Homo sapiens: one gene and its partners. The protein of the gene in region 1 interacts with the protein of each later gene in a pairwise test. Each region holds a gene or a part of one and is shown in the gene's direction. Other genes may lie near its edges. The genes, in order: RANBP3, ANKS1A and CHN2.

The links.
Region 2: the proteins of RANBP3 (region 1) and ANKS1A interact in a two-hybrid assay, tested with the Homo sapiens proteins (one large-scale study listed by BioGRID and IntAct).
Region 3: the proteins of RANBP3 (region 1) and CHN2 interact in a two-hybrid assay, tested with the Homo sapiens proteins (one large-scale study listed by BioGRID and IntAct).

The regions. Positions count from the first base shown.
Region 1 is NC_000019.10:5,918,953-5,922,684, reverse strand, and holds part of RANBP3 (ran-binding protein 3), read left to right. Parts: intron 1-1,363; coding exon 1,364-1,484; intron 1,485-3,732. UniProt on the Homo sapiens protein: Acts as a cofactor for XPO1/CRM1-mediated nuclear export, perhaps as export complex scaffolding protein. Bound to XPO1/CRM1, stabilizes the XPO1/CRM1-cargo interaction. In the absence of Ran-bound GTP prevents binding of XPO1/CRM1 to the nuclear pore complex.
Region 2 is NC_000006.12:34,892,255-34,895,754, forward strand, and holds part of ANKS1A (ankyrin repeat and SAM domain-containing protein 1A), read left to right. Parts: intron 1-3,500. UniProt on the Homo sapiens protein: Regulator of different signaling pathways. Regulates EPHA8 receptor tyrosine kinase signaling to control cell migration and neurite retraction.
Region 3 is NC_000007.14:29,502,236-29,505,967, forward strand, and holds part of CHN2 (beta-chimaerin), read left to right. Parts: intron 1-2,508; coding exon 2,509-2,586; intron 2,587-3,732.

The DNA.
Region 1 (3,732 bases):
GACAGGCGTGAGCCACCACGCCCAGCCCGAGACATTTTTGATGGTTCAGGGAATGACAAAGACTGTCATACCAAACATATTCTCTTGTCGCCCAGAGCTGGCAACTGTATTATTTGTCACCTGGCATCCTGTGGTGTCTTCGTAGGGAAAAGATCAGGTGCGGCCAGAGGTTCCACCCCACCGTCCCCTCCTGGCATCCCCCATTCCTGCTCCTCAGGCCGCACCACCCGGCTTGGGCAGCATCCATGTGCTTCCTCTCCCGTGGCACATAAGCAGGTGTCTGTGTCTGTAAACCGGGTGGCGTATCGTGGCGTTCTTAAGAGCACTGTTCTTTTTTCCCACTTACCACTTTGTCATCTGTTCATGTTGAAAGAGATTGACTTAGGGGGTATGTGGAAAGCCATGTAGGGGTGTCTGTCTCGTATTTTTCTTTGTTTATATATACAAAACTGCTGTATTGAAATATAGTACAAATGCTATATAATCCATCCTTTTAAAGCATACAATTCCGTGGTTTCTAGTATATTCACAGAGTCAGACAACTTTCACCAGAATCTAACGTACAACATTTCTGCCCCCAAAAAGAACACTGTCCCATTCCCCCAGAAAGAGCATTGTCCATTCGCAGTAACTCCTCCTCCCTCCCCAGCCCCTGGCAGCCACAGATCCACTTCCTGTCTCTGTTTTTTGCCTGTCCTTGACATTTCATATAAATGGCATCAACGCACTATGTGGCCTTTCGTGTCTGGCTTCTCTCGCTGAGCCAGAGGTTCATCCACGTTGCAGCGGGGGTCGGAGCCTTGTTCTTTATTAAGACTGAGTGAGATGCGCTGTAGGGGCGGACCATGTGTGTCACTCCATTCCTCCTTGAGACTTGGCTACCGTGAATGATGGTGCTGTGCACGTTCATGTGCGATCTGTGTGTGAACACGAACAAATGTTCCATTTCTCTTGGGTACATACCGAGGAATGGAATTGCTTGGGCATGTGGTAATTCCTTGTTAAGCAGTTTGAGGAGCCGCCAGACTCTTCCACAGCAGTGGCACCATGCGGCCTTCCCGCCAGCAGTGTGTGAGGGTTCCAGCTTCCCCACATGGGTATAGCCGTCCTAGAGTGCGCAGAGAGGCTTCTCACCGTTGTTTTGCTTTTCATTTCCTTAGTGATTCTTTTAATTTCAGATACCCCTTATACAATGTAAAGCCTGTTCTAGCTTGAGGGCAGGACAAAAAACTGACCAAGGTGGCCCCCAGGCCGTCGTTGGCTGGCCCTGGCAGTCCCCACAGGCTAAAGGGCGACTCTCAGGGTGTGGCTGCAGCAGGACACCAGCTGGGGTCCCTGCTTACCGGCGGCCACTGTGTTCCAGATGCAGTGCAAGCTGTTTGTCTTTGACAAGACCTCACAGTCCTGGGTGGAGAGAGGCCGGGGGCTGCTCAGACTCAATGACATGGCGTCCACCGATGACGGCACACTACAGTCCCGACTAGGTGAGCTGCCGACGGCGGGGGCTGTGGCCGGGTCCCCATGGGGAGGGCTGGGGACTATGCAATTCCAAAGGGAATGAAGCGGGGGAGATCCTGACCCTACCCTTGTGAGAGTCAAGGCACAGAGTCGGTCTCCCATGAGAGCCGCCCCCCAAACCCCCTCCCTGCACCCAGCCCTCAACACCACCCTCACACACTGGCTCCAGCTGCCAGCTCGTCCGTGACCCTCTTAGTGTCAAAATGGACAAAAGTCTATGGAAGTTTTTAAGCTGATTTTCTGACAAAGTGGCAGGTTTATGATAGAAAGGAAAATGAAATCAAACATCAAGTCTAATCTCTTGATAAAGACAAATTTTGGCCAGGCGCAGTGGCTCACGCCTGTAACCCCAGCACTTTGGGAGGCCAAGGTGGGCGGATCACCTGAGGTCAGGAGTTCAAGACCAGCCTGGCCAACATGGCAAAACCCTGTCTCTACTAAAAATACAAAAATTAGCCGGGCATGGTGATACATGTCTGTAATCCCAGCTACTCGGGAGGCTGAGGCAGGAGAATTGCGTGAACTTGGGAGACGGAGATTGCAGTGAGCCGAGATTGAGCCACTGCACTCCAGCCTGGGCGACAGACCAAGACTCCATCTCAAAAAAAAATAAAATATACTGTTTTTGAAAAGCTTTCATGTTAATATTCCATTGACAGTCAATGGACTTTTCCCTATTGGTGGACATTTAGCTTGGAGTACCTGCATACACACACCCACTTAAGGAAATCAGCCTGTGTGTGTGCACATTTGAAATGTGGGCGTGTCTTTTTTTTCCTTCTAAAGCTGATTTCACTCCATCACCCAGGCTGGAATACAGTGTGATCATCGCCTCAAATTCCTGGGCTCAAGTGATCCTCCCACCTCAGCCTCCTGAGTAGCTGGGACTACAGATGCACCACCACGTCTGGCTAATGTTTTTATTTTTGTCTTTATAAAGACAGGTCTCCCTGTGTTGCCCAGGCTGGTCTTGAGCTCCTGGCATCAAACAGTCCTCCCACCTCAGCCTCCCAAAGCGCTGGAATTACAGGCGTGGGCCACTGCGCTGGGACCATCTTTTTGTTTTATCTTCCCAAATCAAAGTGTCTTCTGGCCTTTTCATAAATATGGGTTTCAGGCCCAGCAGTAACTCAAGCAGCCCCCTTGAAGGGTAGTGTTCATGCACTTCAATCAGAAACACTGCTCTGGTCAGAACAGACAGGGGATGTCCCTGCAGGCTGGGACTGCTCTTTTGTTCCCCATGGACGTCTTTTTTTTTTTTTTTTGAGACGGAGTTTTGCCCTTGTTGCCCAGTCTGGAGTGCAGTGGCTTCGTTTCGGCCCACCGCAGCCTCCACCTCCCAGGTTCACGCGATTCTCCTGCCTCGGCCTCCCGAGCAGCTGGGCTTATAGGCACCCGCCACCAAGCCTGGCTAATTTTTTTATACTTTAAGTAGAGACAGGGTTTCTCCACATTGGTCAGGCTTGTCTCGAACTCCTGACCTCAGGTGATCTGCCCACCTAGGCCTCCCAAAGTCCTGGAATTACAGGCTTGAGCCACTGTGCCCAGCCTTATGGACGTCTTCTTGTGTTTTTCCTTTTGTCTCGTGGAAATGTTCAAATGTCCATGGAAAGAGAGGGCATAGAGCCCTGAGCCCCCAGGTCATCCCCTCTGCCTGGGTCATCAGCCTGTAGCCCCGTGGCAGCAGTACCCTCCCCAGCTTCAGGGAGAGCAAAATCACCTCTGTCTTTCTCCCACTCGGCCTCTGAGGTGGGCACCTGGGCTCAGGGAGGTCTGTTCGCTGGGCCAGGGCAGGGGGACAAGTTTCTGACCGTCTCCAGGCCTGCTCCAGTGGGGAGAGGCGGCTGGCAGGAAGGTAGGGGCTTGGCTGAGTCCACGGGGTGGGCCCAGGCCAGGCGCAGGGGTGTTGCATCCTCTAGAAGAGTCAGGGCCCTCCCATTTTCCTCCGTAATCTGCTGCCCACAGTCCTCTCGTCTCCTCTCCATGGAAGCGCTAAGCTGCGGTCCTACTCTGCCTTCTCCTAAGGAAACCAGAGGGCAGGGCTGGCCCACTCAGGGGAGGCCAGTCAGGAGGACGTGGACTCCCATGGAGGCCGATGTCTCACACACACAGAAAGCGCATGCACCTTGAGTGTCAGCCCCTGCCTCCCGCAGCCCACCCCGTACTCCTCTCTAATCCCCCCTTCTCCAAGGGAACTGCCATCCTGGTGCCCAC
Region 2 (3,500 bases), on another chromosome or scaffold:
CTCTGGTTAAAGCTAGTAAAAGATTTCTGAGCAAATGAGACCATGCCTAGGTCAGTATGTCCTCCCTTTTTAGATGTGGACATAGTGAAGGGTAGGTTACCTCTGCTCCCAACCCTCTCTCCCCTAAAGACCCTGGATTATTTAATGAGAGCTGTGGAATCATAGCTTCAGATTTGGCCTTTGTATTAGCGGCCATATTCTACCCCTATTTGTACTGCCAACTGTAACTTGCCTGAAGTAAAGCTGGCAGAAATAGGAGCTTACAGTTGCAGTGGAATAATTGTTCCAGACCACACATGTGTTTGTGTATTCACCTGTTTGTGTTCCCCCATCCCGTATTCCACAAAGGCTTTGTGTTTATTCTTAAGCTAAAAAATGCCCTCTTCTCTTACCCATCCCTTTTCCTCTACACAGCTTGGGCTTAGGTTTTAACTTCTTAAAGCCCTTCCTGATGACCCTAATACACACAGATCTCTCAAGCTTCCATGTCTTTGGAGCACGTCATCTGTAGTGTACTTTGCTTGCCTAGCTTTCACAGTTGATCGCTTTGGCCTGTCAGTATAATGTTTACATATAGCAACCCTCACCGATTGATGCTATACCTGAGAATCAGAAAGTCAGCAAAGAAGACTTCTACTAGAAAAACATGTTGTTACAAACTTTGTGTTCTTCTAGCCTTCCTTATTTACTGGATATTTATTCAGGAACAGTATAGCATTATACTGTCCACTTTTTCTTAGCATTAAGCATGTTATAGCATTAAGACCACTTGTTTTTGTGTCAGACTTCCTGGATTCACATTCCACTGCCACCACTGACTAGCTGCTTGACATTATTCAAGTTAACCACTTTGATACTCAATTTCTGCATCTGTAAAATGGGGATAATACTATCTGCCTTATAGGTATCATCTTAGATAATGTGTGTACGGGACTTACCATAATTCCTGGCATATTCTAAGTCCTCAGTCTTAGTCATCCTCAGTTCAGCACATACGGTTTTGCTGTGTTGCACCTGTTCTGTGCAAAGTACCATGCCAGACACATTATTTATTTTTATTTTTGTAGAGATCGTGTCCCACTATGTTGCCCAGGCTAGTCTCAAACTCCTGGGCTCAAACGATCTTCCTGCCTCAGCCTCCCAAAGTGCTGGGATTATAGGTGTGAGCCACAGTGCCCTGCCTGACACATTTTAAATGGTGTTTTTTCATGCTTGGGGATCTGTTTTCCAAGCATGGCAGACTAGAAAGAGTAAATAAGGGAGAGGAATCATTCATATACCCAATGTTTACCCATGATATACTTTGTGCCAGGCCAAGTGATTGCTAGATGCACTGCAAAATATGTCTGAGACCTGGGACATTGTACGTGGTCTGTCAGAATTAGCCCCTCTCTTCATACATGTTCTGTTCCCTTACAGAGTTTATAGTAGTATGATACGTCTGTGTAACAGGCCAACAAAAAGGAGACAGAGAAAGCACACAAATTTAGCATAATTTATCCTACCTCCCGGCTGTTTGAAGCTATTAACATAGGTGTATATAGCCCTATATACCTATGTAAGCCCCAAGCATCAGTTTACTGTATCTTTGTGCTATGATTTATGTTTATTATGACTGTTAGCCATCAAATAAAGATTAAATTATGTTCAATATAGCTTGTTAGTGAAAGAAGAAAAAAAATATAGTTTTCTATCCAAAATGGTTTAAATATAATTTTTTTACTTAAAAGGATAAGCAATAGATTATCTAGAAAGCACAGTTATCCAGAATGTCTAGGCTTACAGAGGCTCTGGATTGCATGGATTATACTTTATATAATACTAACTCATTTTCTGATTGTTTAATGGATGCATGCCTTCGGTCTATACCTTGGGAGCTTGGGATAGGCATTCTATCAAACTTCTTAACTTACAGTATTTTTTAGTTCTGGGCACGTAGCGGGCACTCAGATTCTCATGTAACAAGACAGTTTGCTATGTTTAGAGTTATAGTGAAATACTGATTTCCAAGAAAGAAACTCCTGTATAAGAATATTGTAAGATTTGGTTAAAAGTAAATTCTATCAACTAAAAGGCCAAAAAGATCTGAGAAAAGGAAATGTTAAAACCAATCATGGCCAGGCACAGTGGCTCACCTCTGTAATACCAACACTTTGGGAGGCTGAGGCAGCTGGATCACTTGAGCCCAGGAGTTTGAAACCAGCCTGGGCAACATGCTGAAATCCCATCTCTACGAAAAATACAAACATTAGCCAGGCGTGATGGTGTGCACCTGTAGTCCCAGCTACTCGGGAGGCTGATGTGGGAGGATTGCTTGAGTCTGGGAGGTTGAGGCTGCAGTGAGCCAAGATTGTTCCACTGCATTTCAGCCTGGGTGACAGAGCTAGACCACGTCCTCACACCACCACCCCCCAAAAAAAGAAGAAAAAAGAAAACCAGCCACAATAGCTTCAAACTGTAAATTGAGTTATGAACTAAATACTGATGTATATGAATGGAAAAGTAAAGTGAAATGTACTTCTTAGGGTTCAGAAGCACAGAGAAACTAAACCGAAGATCACAGTTGAGGAGATTATGTTATGGTTTAGGAATATTTTATGCTTAATTTCTCAAGCATGAGAAGGGTGAATAAGAAAAGAGGAAGCCAAGGAGACTTGCTGGAGAATCTGAAAATTTATAGATAGTAGCAATGAATGTGGCTTTAAACTAATTTTTATGCTGCCATTTCATTGGGGGAATAAAAGAAAAAGAAAACTATTCCAAAACAGATATGAATTTCCCAAGATGTGAAAATGTTCTGAAATAAGGAATGAAGCATGAAAAATTTTGAAAAATGGACCTCATTTGGAGGATAATAACAGATTCTCCCAAATGTCAGAAAATATGGCAAGTAATTCATTGTTGTAAAGAAAGCTTCCTAATATTTATTTAAGGACTTTGGTTTTTTTTTTTTTTTAATTAAAAAAAAAAATTTAAGAGACAGGAGTCTTGCTAATGTTGTCCAGGCTGACCTTAAACTCCTGGGCTCAATTGATCCTCCTGCCTCATCCTCCTGAGCTATTGGGACTGCAGGCACATGCCACCATGCCAGGCTAGACTTCTTCCTCTTGTTAGTGTTATTATTTTTTAAACAGTGATTAGCATAACCATTCTATTGAAATGGTCCTTTATTCATTCCCAGAATGGATCTGAACCTTGGAGATTATAATGGCGTGACAGCCTTTTCTCATGCTGACCTTTTTACTTTTGCCCACTACTGTGCCAGATTTCTTTTGAAAGTGCCTATTTTGAGCAAAATGATTTTAACATCTTAAGGAAGAGGGCAACACTGACCATGTAAGGATTGTAGAATGGAAGGGCCTGGAAACAGATCTTGTGGATTTGAATTTGTCTGATCTAAGTTCCTGCTCTTCTAAGAGAATGCAAAAACAAGATAAAATGCAACTATCCACTAGCATAGCAGTTTTCTGGGTCTTCCACTAAACTATCTTAATTAATTA
Region 3 (3,732 bases), on another chromosome or scaffold:
GTACCCAGGAGCAGTCCAGGAATAGTCTGTTCCACCGTGGCAGGAACCCAGGCACTGCAGCTTGTTGCTCTGTCCTGCTTGAGTGCTATCCTGCGTGCACAATCACAGTTGGCCACCACCATCTCATCTGCATTTCACTTAACAGGAAGTGGAAAAGAGCATGCTCCATTCCTTCAAGGCCACAGAAGCTGTAAATGTCACTTCTGCTCTCACATGGGCCAGAGTTTAATGGCCACTGCAATGGATATTGTTCTAAAAATCAAAGGTTCCATTACAACAGAAGAATGGGAGAACAAATATTGGAAGGATAGCTGGCAACTTCTGCTACTCTGGCAAACTCTAACCATCCTTTATCATTTCCTTCAAAGATTAGCTTCTTAAAAAAGCATCTCGATGTAATACAGGGTGACGCTTTGCTCAGTGAAGCATGGGCTAAAGTCAGGAAAATTACCCCCATTTAATTATAATCCAAACCATACAACTTGGCATATTATATAAGGCATAGATTTTTTTTTTTAAAAGTGACGGGATACATGTGCAGAATGTGGAGGTTTGTTAAATAGGTATACATGTGCCATGGTGATTTGCTGCACCTATCAACCTGTCATCTAAGTCTTAGGCCCTGTATGCATTAGGTATTTGTCCTAATGCTCTCCTTCCCCTTGACCCCCACCCTCCAACAGGCCCCGGTGTGTGGTGGTCCCCTCCCTGTGTCCATGTGTTCTCACTGTTCAACTCCCACTTATGAGTGAGAACAAAAGCATGGATTTTTCTACGTTCCTTGAAAACCTGGATTTCTTTGAAAGTGACTCAGTGAATCTTATGGCTGAATGTTTGTGTCCCCTGCCCCACCAAATTTACATATTGAAGCCCTAATCTCCAGTGTGATTGTCTTTGGAGACGGAGGTCTCCAAAGAAATAATTAAGGCTAAATGAGGTCCTGAGGGAGGGACCCTAAACATTATGACTAATATCCTTATGAGAAGAGACACCAAAGAGCAAGCTCGCTCTCTCACTCTCCATGCACATATACCAAGGAAAGGACGTGTGAGAGAAGGTGGCCATCTATGAGCCAGAAAGAGAGCCTCACCAGAGGCCAGAACTTTGATTCATCCATCAACAGGCAGGGTTCATTGTTCACTGCTAGGGGCTCCCATAATCCACTGGGTCTGTGCCTCTGTGGCAGTGCATGTTCCAACTGGAATGAGATGTGCTCATATGCACCAACATCTTAGAACAGGATGACCCACAGGTTTCGTCTTGTGTGGCAACTCCAGTTGATCAGTAGTGGTCACCTGAACAATTGGAACTGAGATGAATTCTGAGGCTAAATAGGGCTCAGTGGGAAAAAGGGCTGAGATCAACTAAGAGTATCTGTCATGGTCACAGGAGGGATGAGGGGAAGTATTCGTGATTTACGCCACGTATTTGTTGTCTCTGATGCATACCTAATGAAGACCCTTATATATGGCAGATAATACATACTCCATAAATGTTTTCCAAATGAAAAAACAGGAGAATATGTGAGTTATCAAGAGTTTGGCAGAATATATGGCGGCAGCAGCAGAGGCTATTTGTTTGCTCATTTTTACTGTAGCTATAGTTTTGATAGCAGCTAGTTTGTGACATACAAAGTCTGAAACCCAGTCCTTTATCCCTGCTCATACTTTTGGGAACTGACTCGTTTTTAGGACATATCTTAACAAATCAATAAGCTCCAGGGACAGAAACCATGTCTTTTTTTCTTAGCCTAAATTTGCAGTGATCCAATTTCCAGAAGCAATAACCAAAACTTTATTTTCCTGCATCTGTTTGTATAATCAGTTGTCTAAAAGTATAACAAGTAACCGTTTTTAATTAAACAGTTAACATAGTCTTATTTACAAGTAAACATGAAAGGCTGTAATAGTCTAATTTTTTCCAATACAATCAGAGTAATACAGATTAGATACCCACATACATACATGTGTGTATCTAGTACAGTGCTACATACAATATAGCACATGGATTAAGATGATGCTAGGTACCCCATTTGCGCTGCTGTGATTATTACACATCTTATGCCTGTATCAAAATATCTCATATACCCCATAAATATATACACCTACTGTGTACCCACAAAAATTAATAAAGATGATGCTAGGAAGAAAGCCAGGTTGCTTCCTACGATGACGAAATTCATGTCCATCAAGCTCATGAACACAGGAAAGGAAGTAAGGGAACGGTCCATGGGAATCTTAAATATCAGTTCTCTTTGCAAAGCAGGGAAGGATGAAGACTGGATTTCCATTGAGATCTCCACTGCTACATGGGCAAATGAGAACAGACTTGCCTGGGAAATTGAGACAGACAAGTCCAAGTTCTGATGCAACAGTGTGTGATAAATAAAATCACTGTCTATGTTTGCTCATTTTCTGATAGCATGTAGTATAGACGTGAAATTAGTCTTTTTTTTTTTTTTAGATGTTTCAAGAAGCTAAAGTCAGTCTCTCTCTCTCTCTCTAACAGGATTAAAATCGGAAGGCCTTTACAGAGTCTCTGGGTTCACTGAACACATTGAAGATGTCAAAATGGCATTTGACAGAGGTAAGCTTGTACTTTCTTGAATGCCATCTGACATCCTAACACCCTTCTCGATTGGAAGTAGGTTTTAATCATAGTAGAAATGGGGTTTCAGAACTACTAAGAGTTGTTCTTCAAGAAACGGAGGAATAATGGCTTACAAATCTCATGTTTCTGCCTCACTGGGTGAAGTGTTACCTTCACAGCCATTGATAAGTGATCACTGTCAATGGGCAGACAATCCACATGGCATTGGAGTACCCATCTGCATCCCCTGTCTCAGAATCCCATTCTTCTCATTCTCTCAAAGCTCCAAAGAAGGGATCATAGGGATGGGAGGGCACCCCCAGCACTAATGTAGGGGAAGGCAGTGGACATGTAGGAGGGAACTGCTTTTGTTCTTTATAACTGTGGTGTATATTCTCTAGAACATACTATCTCTTAAGTCAGATATCATGGCCATCCTGGGGATCCTGTTAAAAATATGGGTCACTGGGACCCAACTTGAAGACTCATTCAGAAAGCTGGATAAGCCCAAGAATCTGTATTTTTAATAAGCAATCCAAATAATTCTGGTACAGCCAGTCAAGACATGGAAGCCCTACTGGATAGAGCCTACTGGATAGAGCCTCTACTTTGTAGTGTGGTATGTGAAATCAGTGAGGTAGCCCTCCCTCTCTCTTCAGACTTCTCTCCAGTTCCTCCTCCCTACTGTACTGCACACTCCAGCAATCCTGAAATACACCCTATTTGTTGCCATGAAGAAGTGCCTTGGCTCACATTGTCCTGTCTATCTGAAATGTATTCACCTCTCTGCCTGGCAAACACCTGTAATCAGGGGTCAGCTCAAGCCTTTCCTCCTTGAGGAAGCCTCGCTGACTACCCCAAGCTAACCTCAGAGCTCCACTTCCTTTTTCCACATCCCCCCACATTCTCCACACTTCTTCAGCATAGCAATCTTCCTATTTCCTTGTCATTGTTGAGTTGCATGTCTGTCAGTCAGTCTAACTAGAACTGTTGGTTGGCAGAGAGTATCTCTTTTCCATGGTTCATCAGGGCTTAATGGTGCTTGGCACATGACAGATTCCCAATAACTGTTTGCTAAATATGTAAATAATGAAATCAACATGGCATATCTTCTATGCTTTTACTGTTTTCTATACATCGGCA